Regions from separate parts of the Homo sapiens genome. Here region 2 is linked to region 1. Evidence: fine-mapped expression QTL. Tissue or cell type: monocytes. Region 1 holds a variant in brackets; the other region holds the start of a gene. All regions are shown on one strand. Distances are between the middles of the regions.

Region 1 (5,843 bases):
ACCAGGGTGGTCTGGCTGGCTACAACCAGGCACCCAGCACCTGGAATCCTCACTGGGAAGCTGAGCCGGGCAGGGGCCCTGAGTCTGTGTCCAGCCAGCCCCATGGTCACTGCGTCCTTCCTGCACCCCAGGCCCCATGCTGGACACAGGGCTCGGCCCAGAGCGAGGCAAAGTCTCTCACTTCTTGGAGCTTATGTCTCAGTAAAAATACATAAAATAGGTTAATGTACACAGACACAGCCTCAAATCGGGGTGAGATTCATGCTGTGAAGGCAAAGAACGCAGACCACGAGGGCAGGTGGGGTGGTGGCCTGCGCCGGGGCCCGCTGAGAAGCAGAGACAGACAGGACCCAGCCGTCCCACGAGGGCCCAGAAGCCGTCCACAGATCGGGAGGCAGATGAGGGTGTGTACGGAGACAGAGACAACAAATATAGCCACCTTTTGGGGAGAATTTTGCTGAAACAAGGAGGTGAGAAACAAGAGCTGAGCCGGGTTTCTGTTTGAGACTCTTCTGCTGCCCCGATGGCTTGGCCGGCAGAAAGACAGTGATGCCGCCACAGAGACGGTGAGAGGTCACCCGGCCGCCACAGCCCGCTCCTTCCCCCAGGGCGACGGTGAGGGGTCACCTGCCCGCCACGGCCTGCTCTTCTCTTTTAGAGTAACCACTGATGTCTTAAGAAGTCAGGAAGCCTTGTGAGATGAGTGAGATGCTGACTTTAGCCCCGTGTTGGTGCGTGCTGCCTCGGCTCATCCTCTGCGGGGCGGCTTGCCTGTTGCTGTGTGTCTGGCTCTGCCTTGCTCTGAGCAGGGTCCCCGGGTGGCTTCCTGGATGCCTTTGCGGGTTGGGGACGACCCGGACCCTCTCGGTCCATTGCAGTCACCCAGGTTGAGCCACTCAGAACCGATGGCAAGCGAGCTCCCCTGGTGTGTTCCAGGTTGTCATCCAAGGAGCAGCCATGGCCTCAAACACCCCTCCAACCCCACCCCACCGCCGCACAGGCCCGGATCCACCCCGCAGGCCGCGGCTGCTCCCAGGTGTGACTGCCCTGAAGCCGGATGAGGCATTTCCATGGCCCCCCAGAACGGAGTGTTGGGGGTTGAATTGTGTCTTCCAAAAAGAGATGTCGGAGTGCTAACTCCCAGTGCCTCAGAATGTGGCCTTGGTTGGAGATGGGGTCTTTACAGAGGCGACCGAGCTAAAAGGAGGTCAGTGGGGCGGGCCCTGACCCCAGCGCCGCATGGAGAGCGCCCAGAGGAGATGCAGGTGGAGGACAGGGTGGTGCTGCCACACCTGGGGAGACCCCGGGGTGTTGGTGCACAGACGAGCCTCCGCAGGGCGCTCACAGGAAGCACGCATGTCACCCACGCTTTTGAGATAGGCACATGGCTCTTCCTCTCCCAGCAAACAACTTTTAATTCCAACTTTTATTTCTTCTCCAGGCTCCATCCTCCTCCCTCTCTCTTGGCCCCAGGTGCTGCTGGAATGTCCCCTTTGCTGGGACACTGGAGGACACCTGAACAAACCAGCCTCCCTGTCAGAGCCTGGAGGCTGCCCCAAGCCAGCATCTGTGGCTCCACATGAGCTGAGAACCATTTTATGCCGGCCTCGCTCTCCCTCCAGCCCTTCTGGGCTTGGCTGGCCTTGCCCCGTCCCCTGAGCCCTCCCAGCAATCCTGTCCCAGGTGAGAGTATGAGGCTGGCATGGAACAGCCCTCAGTTGATGTGGGGGAGCAGCGGATGCCCTGGGCAGGCTGGTGGATGCCAGAACACCCTGAGGACACCTGAGGACACCCGGAGGACACCTGAGGATGCCCCGAGGACGCCCTGAGGACACCTCTCGAGACACCGGGAAGGGGCTCCTGTGGGTTCTGTCCCTGCGTCCCTCCCACACCTGGGCCCGTTCACTGGCAGGCCACACGCTATGCTGTTGTGGAAAGCAGTCGTCAGGACAGGCTGCACGAGGTGAGCGGGTTCACTGCGCGTGCAAAGGACCGGCAGCCTCCTCAGGACAGGGCCAGTCCTCGTCCACCTCAGGACCCGCCACTGAGCAAGTGCGCCACAGGCCACGTGGGCGGCTCTGGGAGCCCCAGCATCAGCGCGGGGCACGCAGCGCCACACGAGCCACGCCTTCCTCCATCCTCACCGCTGCAGGCACACAGACACTCCCATTCAGGTCCACAGGCGGCATCATCTGCTGTGGGGGCCTCGGGTGGCCTGTGTGGTTGATGATGTTTGCTAAACACCCACAGAGGCCCCCAGTGACCTAGCATCTGCAGTTAAGAAAAGATCTTTGGCACGGGACAGATGGGCCAGTGTGGAGGGCAAGCTTGCATCCCCCTCTGGCTTCCCCAGGAGGCCCTGATGGGCAGGGAGGGCCAGGCTTCCTCCTCCTTGGGCAGTGGGCAGGGTCACTGGGCATCTCGCTTTCAGGATTCATGTCTTCTGTCTGGAGAGCAGGGGGAGGTGAAGCGAGTTTGGGTCACTCATTAGGGCCAGGCCTTCCCACCCTAGTGCCGCCCCCTGGGACCAGCCTGCTCTGCCCCTCCCCTCTTCTCCCCATGACCCGCAAAATCACAGCATTATCTGTTTTCCTGCTACAAGAGGAAGAGACAGCTGTACGGAAGATGGCTTCAGGGTTACGAGCTGGAAAGGTAAAGGTAAGCCCACATGAAGATGCTGAGAATCCAGG[G/A]AACGAGAGGAAAGCATTTCGGAGAGAATCCAGGGCAGCTGTAGGTTCATTCACCCCACAGATGCCTTCGGAGCACTGCCTGTGAAAAGTACCCCCGACTTTGTGGCGTTCAGGAGCCAGAAAAAGTCCCATGTTTAGAATTCCAGCCTGCGAGCCAGGGGCCCTCTGTCCCCTCCCGGGGTGTTTCCCACGTGGCCCTGAGCTGAGACTCCATGGGAAGCAGGTGGCTGAGCAGGGAGAGGAGATGTAGCCAGGCGGGACTCAGGCACCAGCCACCAGGGATGCTCTAGGATCCACCCCAAGGCCCCTCTCCGGGTGCCCCAATGGAGCTGGGATCCCAGAAGTTGGGACCTGGTGGTGTTTTGAAGTTGGTGTTTCCAGACAAGACACAAAACTGCAGAGTATGACACGGCCGGGCTGGGTGGAACTCGAGAGAGGGTGAGGTCAGGGTTGGGACAAGGCCACGGCCTCCAAGGCCAGGGGGCATTCCGGGGGCTCCGTGGCAGCACCCAGAATTCTGCCAGGGCTGGGAGTGGCAGGGGGCAGGGAATGCCCTCTACTTCAGAGTGGGAAAGGCTGGGTTCAGCCAACAGAGCCCAGGAGGCTGAAGGGCCTGGAGGAGCCTGGGGTTTGGTCAAGAGGGAAAATTGGGATGGAAAGGGGGCACCTAGACCCCAAGCACGAGGTGGCAGGCAGGAGCTTGGCAGAGGTCAGGGAGGAGCTTGTGGTGGGGATGGACCAGAAGGTTGGGAAACCCAGTGGTGTTTCCGGTTCTGTGCAGGCACTGGCATCCAGGGCAGTCAGCACCAGGGCCCTGCACCTGGCACACCTGGTATCCCTGCAGGGGGTGGCAGCCGAGGGAACAGCCAGGGAGGGCCCACATCACCCACTGGGCTTGCCACCTCCATCCCGCACAGAAGCACGCTGCGAAGTGTTCTGACTGCACAGTTTCTCAGAGCAGAAAATGTACACACCACTTGTGTGAGTTTCTTTATAAAGAAACTGAAGCAGACTTTTATTCTTTATTGCAAGCAGATTCAGGTCTCCTGCTTAGATAATCTAGAGAAAAGTCCAATATAATATTATCCAGTCAGTTTATCTACAGAAATAAAAGTTAAAAACAGAAGCATACAAAATAAACTTTACTGAAATGTTAGATTGGTTTAATTAACAATTTAATTTTTCAAAGCTGATTAATGAATTATCAGTTAAATGTTACTGTGTGGAGACTGATTTATGTTAATGCACCTACTATGTTTAATAATTTAAAAATAAACTCCAGTATTTATGATGATGACAACTATGGATACCATTCATGTTAAATACATTTTTGAAGACCTTCTTTTATTACATTACATAATGAACAGACATTTTAAATGGTGACGCAGACATTATAATTTTAAGTCAGACACAATATATGCATATTAAAATTCTGTATACTTTGATAAAGTAAAAAATAAAGCTATATAAATTGATCTTTAGATTTTTCTGCAAAAGTAGAATCACACTTTCATGACACTTCTAACATATCCCATCAAGGCTGCTTATAGACACAACATCAGAAAGATTTTCATTCCAGTTCACCCACCTTTAGCTTAAAAAAAAAAAAGATTGCATTTGCCAACTGATATTTTTCCTGTTTTTAAAGTTACAAATGGGTAACTTCCTAAAGAAATGTAGGATGCAAGGACCTGCATATCAAGCTGTTAGACACTGAGTTGTCAAATAAATAATACTAACATTAAATAAGAGTGGTTGTATTATTCAGTACTAGTCAGTGCAAAACACATGAGCTGAGTGGTTTGAAGAACAAGGCTGGAGGTTTCCCGCGACAGCACCGGACCCCTGGCCAAGGCTCAACTCAGGGGAGTCCCCACAGCCTGTCTAAACATTTGTTTAAACGCTCAGCAAGCCGAGCGGATGGTCACCCTGTTGGAGACGCTGGCCGCATCTGGCCTCCTCCCTCGAGACGGTGTGGCCTGCTTGTTCGCCCTGTCTGCTCAGACACAGGCTGGGTTGACTGGGGCTTTAGGCGGCCGCGGCCCTTCCCAGCTGGCTCGTGGCGGAAGGCTGGCCGTGCTCCGACGCGTGCACGGATGAGGTGCGGCGTGGGTGTGGCCAGTCCTGCTGTGGCCGCCTGGTATAGGGCTGAGCCGAGGGGAGGTTTCAGCTTGCGAGGCTGGACCTCCCTAAAGGGGAAGGGCCTTGTCCAGGGCACCAAGCCTTGCTCACAGAGCAGCTGGTGTAAGTGAAGCTGCGACTTCACCCCCGGGGCCTGCTCTGCAAAGCCCAGACATTCTGCCAGGAGGGGGACTCTTCATCCCAGGGAGGCATGGGCTGGGGGCCAGGGAGCCCATCTTCCCATGCCCATCCAGAGGCCTCTCACAGGGGCCCCTCAGCAAGGAGGCAGGATGCAGTGCAGGACACCAGGACAGTGTGCACTTGTTTGTGGCACATGTGTGTATATGTGTGTGCATGTGTGTATTCACGCCTGCAGGAGCCTGCGCATGTGTTTGTGGTGCGTACATGTGCATGTGTACGTGTGGGAGCTCACGTGTGGGAGACGTGTGTTTACATGTCTGGGAGCTCGTTTGTGGTGTACACGTGTGTGCATGTGTGTAGGAGCCTGTGCGTGTTTGGGGTGTGTCCATGTGCATCTGTGTGTACGTGTGGGAGCTCACATGTGTACGATGTGTGCACGTGTGTTTACACGTCTGGGAACTCATTTGTGGTGTACACATGAATGTGCACGTGTGCAGGAGGCTGCACGTTTGTAGTGAATGTACGTGTGCGTGTGTGTGTGCATGTGTGCAGTAGAAGCTCATACGTCTCTCTGCTGTGCATACACGTGTGTGAGAGCAAGCCTGTAGGAGCTTGTACATGTGTGCTTACCTGTACATGCATGTGTGTATCACACGTCCGTGTGTAGGAACTTACGCTGTTCATGATATGTGCATATGTATTGTGTAGGAGCATGCACACGCGTGTCTGTGGTATGTGTACACGTGCATGTTCTGCATGTCTGTAGGTCACACATGCTTTGGTGCATGTACACGTGTGTGTGTGTATGCGTGTAGGAGCTCACACTTGTGTACACGTTTGTGTGCATGCATGTGTGCAGGAGCTTGCACGTTTGTGGTGGGTACATGTACA
Region 2 (5,843 bases), 200 kb after region 1:
GGGAAGGGGGGATTCTCCAAAGGGTGAGCCGGGCTGGCCCATCCATCTCTCATTTCTATGGAAAGAGGCTGCACATTAGCCCCACAACGTGACCCTCCTTTTTAACACTGAGTGTTAGAAGGGAACGGAATGAACTGGGAACACCGCGGGCAAAGTGAGTGTTAGTCCCTTCCCTCTTCCATTTCGCTCGAAGGAAACAAAGCAGGAAAATAAGGTGTCTAGGGACCCACACTTCTGAGCGACACAACTGAGAACAGAAGCTTCCGCCCAATAAAGCATTTCTCTTACACTGCAGGTTACCTATAGTCACTGTGATTGGGTCTTCTATAACGTTACCACAGTGAAACACAGGTTTACCACTCACATTAGGATTTGAACTGGGGGCTCGAGCACCAGTGAGGGAGTAACACAAGGCTCCTGGAGCCAAGCCTTTCAAGATCTAGCATCGGAATCATCAGAATCACCAGGGGTGAGTTCTCTCCACTTAAGTAAGTCAGGCTGACCTTCCTAAGGCTTCCCCGAGATCAGGAAACGATGTAAGGTGCACTCAAGTCTCCTTGACTCTCCGAGGTTTTTGGTTAATAAATAAATCCGGGGGAAAGCATTGATCTGGCATCCCCCACTGAAAAGAAACCTATCTATCTTTGGCCAAGGTCTCCTATTTAAAGAAGGCTCATAAATATGAAAGGCTGCCTGAGGTAATTCCTATGCCGGGAAAGAACAAAGTTCCCATAATACTGCCCTCTCTAGTATCAAACCCGGTGCATGCGACTTCTCGAACCTGTGATTGACCAGTGACCGCCAGCCTCTATGGAACAATGAAGCCTCTTGTGCAAGACAGTGGCAGGAAACGCTGTGCTTGGGACAGTTTTCTTCCTCTCCTACACACACACACACACACACACACCCTTTTTTTTTTTTTTTTTTGATACAGAGTCTCGCTCTGTCACCCAGGTTGGAGTGCAGTGGCTCGATCTCGGCTCATTGCAACCACCGCCTCCCGGGTTCAAGCGATTCTCCTGCCTCAGCCTCCTGAGTAGCTGGGATCCCAGGCGCCTACCACCACGCCCGGCTAATTTTCGTATTTTTTAGCAGAGACGGGGTTTCACCATGTCGGTCCGGCTGGTCTCAAACTCCTGACCTCGTGATCCGCCCGCCTCGGCCTCCAAAAGTGCTGGGATTACAGGCGTGAGCCACCGCGCCCGGCCACACACCCCTTTTTACACCTAACGCCAGGGATTCCGGTTTCCCCTCCTCTGGTGTAAAACAAAATCAACTTTTCCCCTTCCGAGTCTTCCCTCCTGAGCTCTTCACTTGCTTATCACTGAAGGGGCAAATTCCAGAGGAACCCAAGAAGACCCCGGACTTCTGATCTAATTGGTTACTTTAAGGTAAAAAATAAAAAGATTCCAAACTCCGCTTCTGAATCCCCCAGGGGTGTTAAAGAACAAACACAATTGCTACCTTTTTCTGCAGAAGTGTAACGCTTCCTCCCAATCCCTTAATCTTACAGACACGGCTGCGCGGAAGCCGCATCTGAAGGTTCCTCCCCAGACCCGGGCCCCGGCGGGGTCGAAGTTGGCTCCCTCCGGGCGCCCGGTCCGCCGGGACAGCTCGAACCCCAGCCAGCCTCTCCGAGGGACCCCCAGGGCGCTGCGGGCGGGAAGGGGGCGCCAGGCGGCCGCGGCCAGGGAGCAGGTGGCCGCCCGGGGCTGGGGCCCCGCGCTGTGCCCACCTAGACCCCGTCGGAAGCCCCAGGGTGTCAACTCCGAGGCCCCTCCCCAGCATCCCGCTCGTCCCCGGGGGCGGTCCGAGTCCCAGACATCGGAGACCTCCCGGGACCCCGGGGCTGGACCGGCCACAGGGTCCGGGCTGCGGGGCCGGCCCGCGTCTGTCTGGTCCCCGGGTCCCCCAGCCCGCGCCGGGAGCACTCACGTATCTGTGCACGAGCGTCCGCACGAGGCTGCAGTCCATGGCTCCTCCGGCCGCTCCCGCTCCGCCGTTCAGCGCCCCCGCGCCCGGCTCGGCGCGCCCATGGGCTCCGGGGTACTAGTGCGGCCGCGCCCCCCGCTCCGGTCACGGCCTCGGCGCGCCGGGCGGTGCAGGGGGCGGCCGCGGCCCCTCCGCGCTCATGCCCGGCCCGGCCGGCGAATGCTGGGTCCGCGGCCCCGCGCGTCGGCAGCTGCTCCACTGGCGGCAAGGCTGCTGCTCGGGGCCGCGCGCGCGCGCTCTGGCGCCTTCTCTCTCCCCGTCGGTCCGCCCGCTCGGTTGGGCTCGGCTGGAGCACCCCGGCCGCGGCGGAGCCTGCGCTCTGCTCCTCCCGAGTCTCCTCCTCCCCTGCCCGCCGCCCTCTGGAGCCTCCGGGCCCCGCTGGCTCCTGCCCCTGCTCCGGGCGCGCACGTCACCGGCGCAAGTGAGCATGCGCCCCGCGGCCGCAGCCCCCGCCGGCCCCGCGCCCACACCCGCGCTCGCACCCGCGCGCCGGCCCTGCCCCCTCGCGCCTCCGCCCGGGCCCCAGACCCTGGGGGCAGAGGGCAGAGGGCAGAGGTCAGAGGCCGCGGGGAGGAACCCCCCTGTTGCTTCCGCCTCCCGGGGCGCAGGCGCTGGGCGCGGCGGGGAAGGGACTCGGCACTGGGGAAACCCGGAGTTTCAGCCAGGGTCCCAGGGCTTCCTTCCCGGGTTCCTGCCGGAAAACTTTTCTCCTCCGCCCGGAAGCCTCGATGGGGCAGTGAGATCGCGGGGCGAGGTGGGAGTGTGGGAGGGGGCCGCGGGCAGAGAGCGGGAGTCCGGCTGGGTGGGAGATCTCCTGAGCCGAAGCTGGGTCTCGCCCCAGCGTGGCGCCACCGACCCGCAGGCTTTTCCTGCTCTGCAGATGGAGAGACACAGGGACGCTCCTCAGGTGGCTGCCCTGGGCTGCCAGCCTGTCAGTGGGAGGGGAGGGTGCAGACAAGAGGCCCCTGTTTCCGAAACCCCTCTGTCCCCAAAGCTGCGACAGCAGAAGACACTTAGGCGGCCTGAGGGGTTGGTGAACCACAGAGGAGCTCAGCTTCGCCTGGTCTCCAGCTCCCGGTGGCGGTGGCGTGTCCTTAATGCTGCTGGCTTTGAACTGGACTGAGAACTATTTACCACACAAACACCACCATTTCAATCCCGGAGAATGCCTGTTTTCCCTAGGGTGACCTGGCCGGGGTAACAAACACTTGTTCTCTAATTCCACGGTCAGCCTTGACTTAATTGAGGTACTTGATTTCCAACTTCCTGTCTTGCTGCCACAGATAATCACTGATGAAACCAAACAGGCAACACCTTTTGGTGGCCTGTGGAGAGCGCTGCCCCGTCTGGGTCTTAGGAAGGCAATTGAATATGAATGTTCTCCCGAGTGCTTGTGGAAAAGAGATGGTGTTGGCCACTTTTTAGACGAAGAGAAATGAGTACTAGTGAACACTAATCATAGTGACTAAACAGTAAACGGCTCCCATTTGTTGTCGGCTAAAGCACTGATTCTTCATTTTCCATCCCAGCCTGTCCTGCTCTGGCCTGCCCTGTGCTCAGGAAGCTGGCGGTCCCCCTCAGTGGATCTTCACCCACAGGGACAACCTGCTGCAGACCGGGTAGGAGGGAGGCAGGGGCCTCTTCCCCTCTCCTTCCTGGCCTGGCCCCACACCCACCAGTGTTGGTTTCACTCTGTGGCTACGATTCTTCCTGGGTGCCCTTTCCATTGCACAACTCCTCTAGGCTCTACGAACAGAACTTCTCCCCGCCCCCAAGCCTCTTAGGGTGAGACATGTTGTCGGTCTGCCATTGTTGCTGGTCCCTAAATAGCAGCACCCTTTGAAGGATCCTTGAACCATGACCACACCGCAACAAAGAGTCCTTCATCAAACTCGCTTCCAAATCCCCTCCCAAGAACACCTTCAGTTTCCTGCAAGAACCCTGACTGCTGAAGCCGGATTTTGACTAAGCTTCTACCTTGTAAACCGTGACTGTGGGATTGGGGTCGAGGCGCAATCAGAGGTTGTATAAGGCACTAGATCAAGGCTGCCTGTCTGTCAGGAGTGTCTGCTTTATTCAGTAGTAAATGTGAATTGTTTTTCATTCTGTTGTGAATACTGTTGGTTGACAATGCAGCAGCCATGCCCTCTCTATCCTTGCTGGTTCAGGTATCCACTCTGTGTGGCTAAGGGTAAACTCTGTCTCTTGAGAAAATCTTGGTAACTCCATTTCTCTTTCCAACAATTGGCTTCAAACAAGCTCAAGTCAATGAGTCCCAACAGGAAGCCTGCTGGGGGTTGTCTGGCAAAGGTTTTCTCACTCCTACAGGAACATAAAGAGGAAATGCTCCTTTTTCCCTGGTGAATGTTGCATTCCCTGTCTGGATGCAATGCCTGGTGCTCCGCAGCCCTTTGCACTTATAAGAGAAGGTGGCCGGAAGAGCATCTTCACCCTGGGGTGGCCGCCTGGGAAGATGAGAAGAGCAGGAGTCCTTGGTGGCACAACCAGGCAATTCACCAAAATCCTGCTGCCCTCACCTGGAATTTCCTGCTATGAGAGACGTCTCCGTTTAAACCACATGAGCTGGATTTTCTGTTTCTAACACATGTCAGCATCTTCACGGTAAATCTAAGAAAAAAAAATCAGGGCTATTAAAAAACAAAGTCCAACTCACCCTGTGCTATGGTCTGAAGGTGTCCTCCCAAATTCACACGTGGAAACCTAATCCCAAATACCTGATACCTAATCCCAAATATTAAGAGGTGGGGGCCTTGGGAGGTGGTTAGGAATGGGATTAGTGCCCTTTAAAACTGAGGTTTTTGGGAGCCTGCTTGCCCTTTCTGCCATATGAAGATGCTTAGAAGAGGCCTTCTATGAAGCAGAGAACTTTTCTCAGATGCCAGATCTGCTGGGACCTTGATCTTGGATTTCTCAGCCTTCAGAACTGTGGGAAGCAAACTTCTGTGTGTATGAATAGCCATCTAAAGGATTTTGTTACAGCAGCCTGAGCAGACTAAGACACCCTGTGAGTCAGTTATTTTTGGCTGTGTCACGAGTGACCGCGAGTGCAGGAGCTGAAACGGCAGTGAGTGGGTTACCATTTCTCAGGACCCTGCGGAATTGGTGCGATGGTGCTTCTGCTCCACCTGTTGTTGGCTGGGATTGTCCTGCAGCTGCATTCTTCTGGGGGTCAGCTGGGGCTGGAAGCTTCCTGTGGTCTAGTCACACAGCTGGGGTCTCAGCTAGGGTGATAGAACACTGGGGGCAGGCCGGCCTTGCTGTCTCTCTCTGGCTTCTCATCATTCAGTGGTCTAGCCTGAGTTTTTTACATGGCAGCTCAGGAGGGTCAATGTGGACGCTATACAGCCTGTAAGGCCCGGGTTTGGAAGTCCAAGAATATGACTTCTACCATGTTCTACTGGTGAATATAAATTCCAAGGCCAGCCTAGATTCAAGGGATAAGAACGTAGATTTCACTCCTTGATGGGAGGATCCCATGTACAGACAGGGATCCTTATGAGGGATTATGAGAACTCCTAATCCTTATGAGGGATTATCATACAGAGAATTTATGGGGGATTATCTTTGGAAATAATCTACCATAGACTGAATAAATGATAATGTAATGTGTTGGTGCCCCTCCCAGTGCATTCAAAAGTGAAACGACTGCCAGAACTCCAGGGCCTGCAAGTTTCTTCCTTCACATCTAAGCAGAAGGAGAGACTTCACAGTGACGTGCCAGCTAAGTCACGTGCCCACTCCTGCCCAGTCTGTCACGCAAGTAGCAGAGTCCCTGAGATGATTGGCTTAGGCCCGAGGTCAGTGCACATCACCAAACTAGTAAGTGTCCA

The links. PIP is the estimated chance that this variant, and not a neighbour inherited with it, causes the effect.
Region 2: ATP11A starts here. The variant in region 1 is fine-mapped to the expression of ATP11A in monocytes (TOPMed, PIP 0.92).

What each region holds. Positions count from the first base shown.
Region 1 is chr13:112,884,993-112,890,835 of GRCh38, reverse strand. It overlaps ATP11A (ATPase phospholipid transporting 11A), which reads right to left. Exons shown (of 30, transcript NM_015205.3): 30 at 3,668-5,843. Among named protein-coding and RNA genes, the nearest start is that of MCF2L-AS1, 81 kb to the left of the region's middle. RefSeq lists cis regulatory regions at 1,651, 5,256 and enhancers at 1,579-1,723, 4,182-4,757, 5,184-5,328. The variant G/A (reference allele first, on the strand shown) is at 2,691.
Region 2 is chr13:112,686,548-112,692,390 of GRCh38, reverse strand. It overlaps ATP11A (ATPase phospholipid transporting 11A), which reads right to left and starts at 2,353. Exons shown (of 30, transcript NM_015205.3): 1 at 1,936-2,353. The coding sequence starts at 1,974. It overlaps LOC102725228 (a long non-coding RNA gene), which reads left to right and starts at 2,576. Exons shown (of 2, transcript NR_187633.1): 1 at 2,576-2,728; 2 at 3,522-5,622. RefSeq lists enhancers at 199-700, 2,999-3,516 and silencers at 1,561-1,800, 1,821-2,750.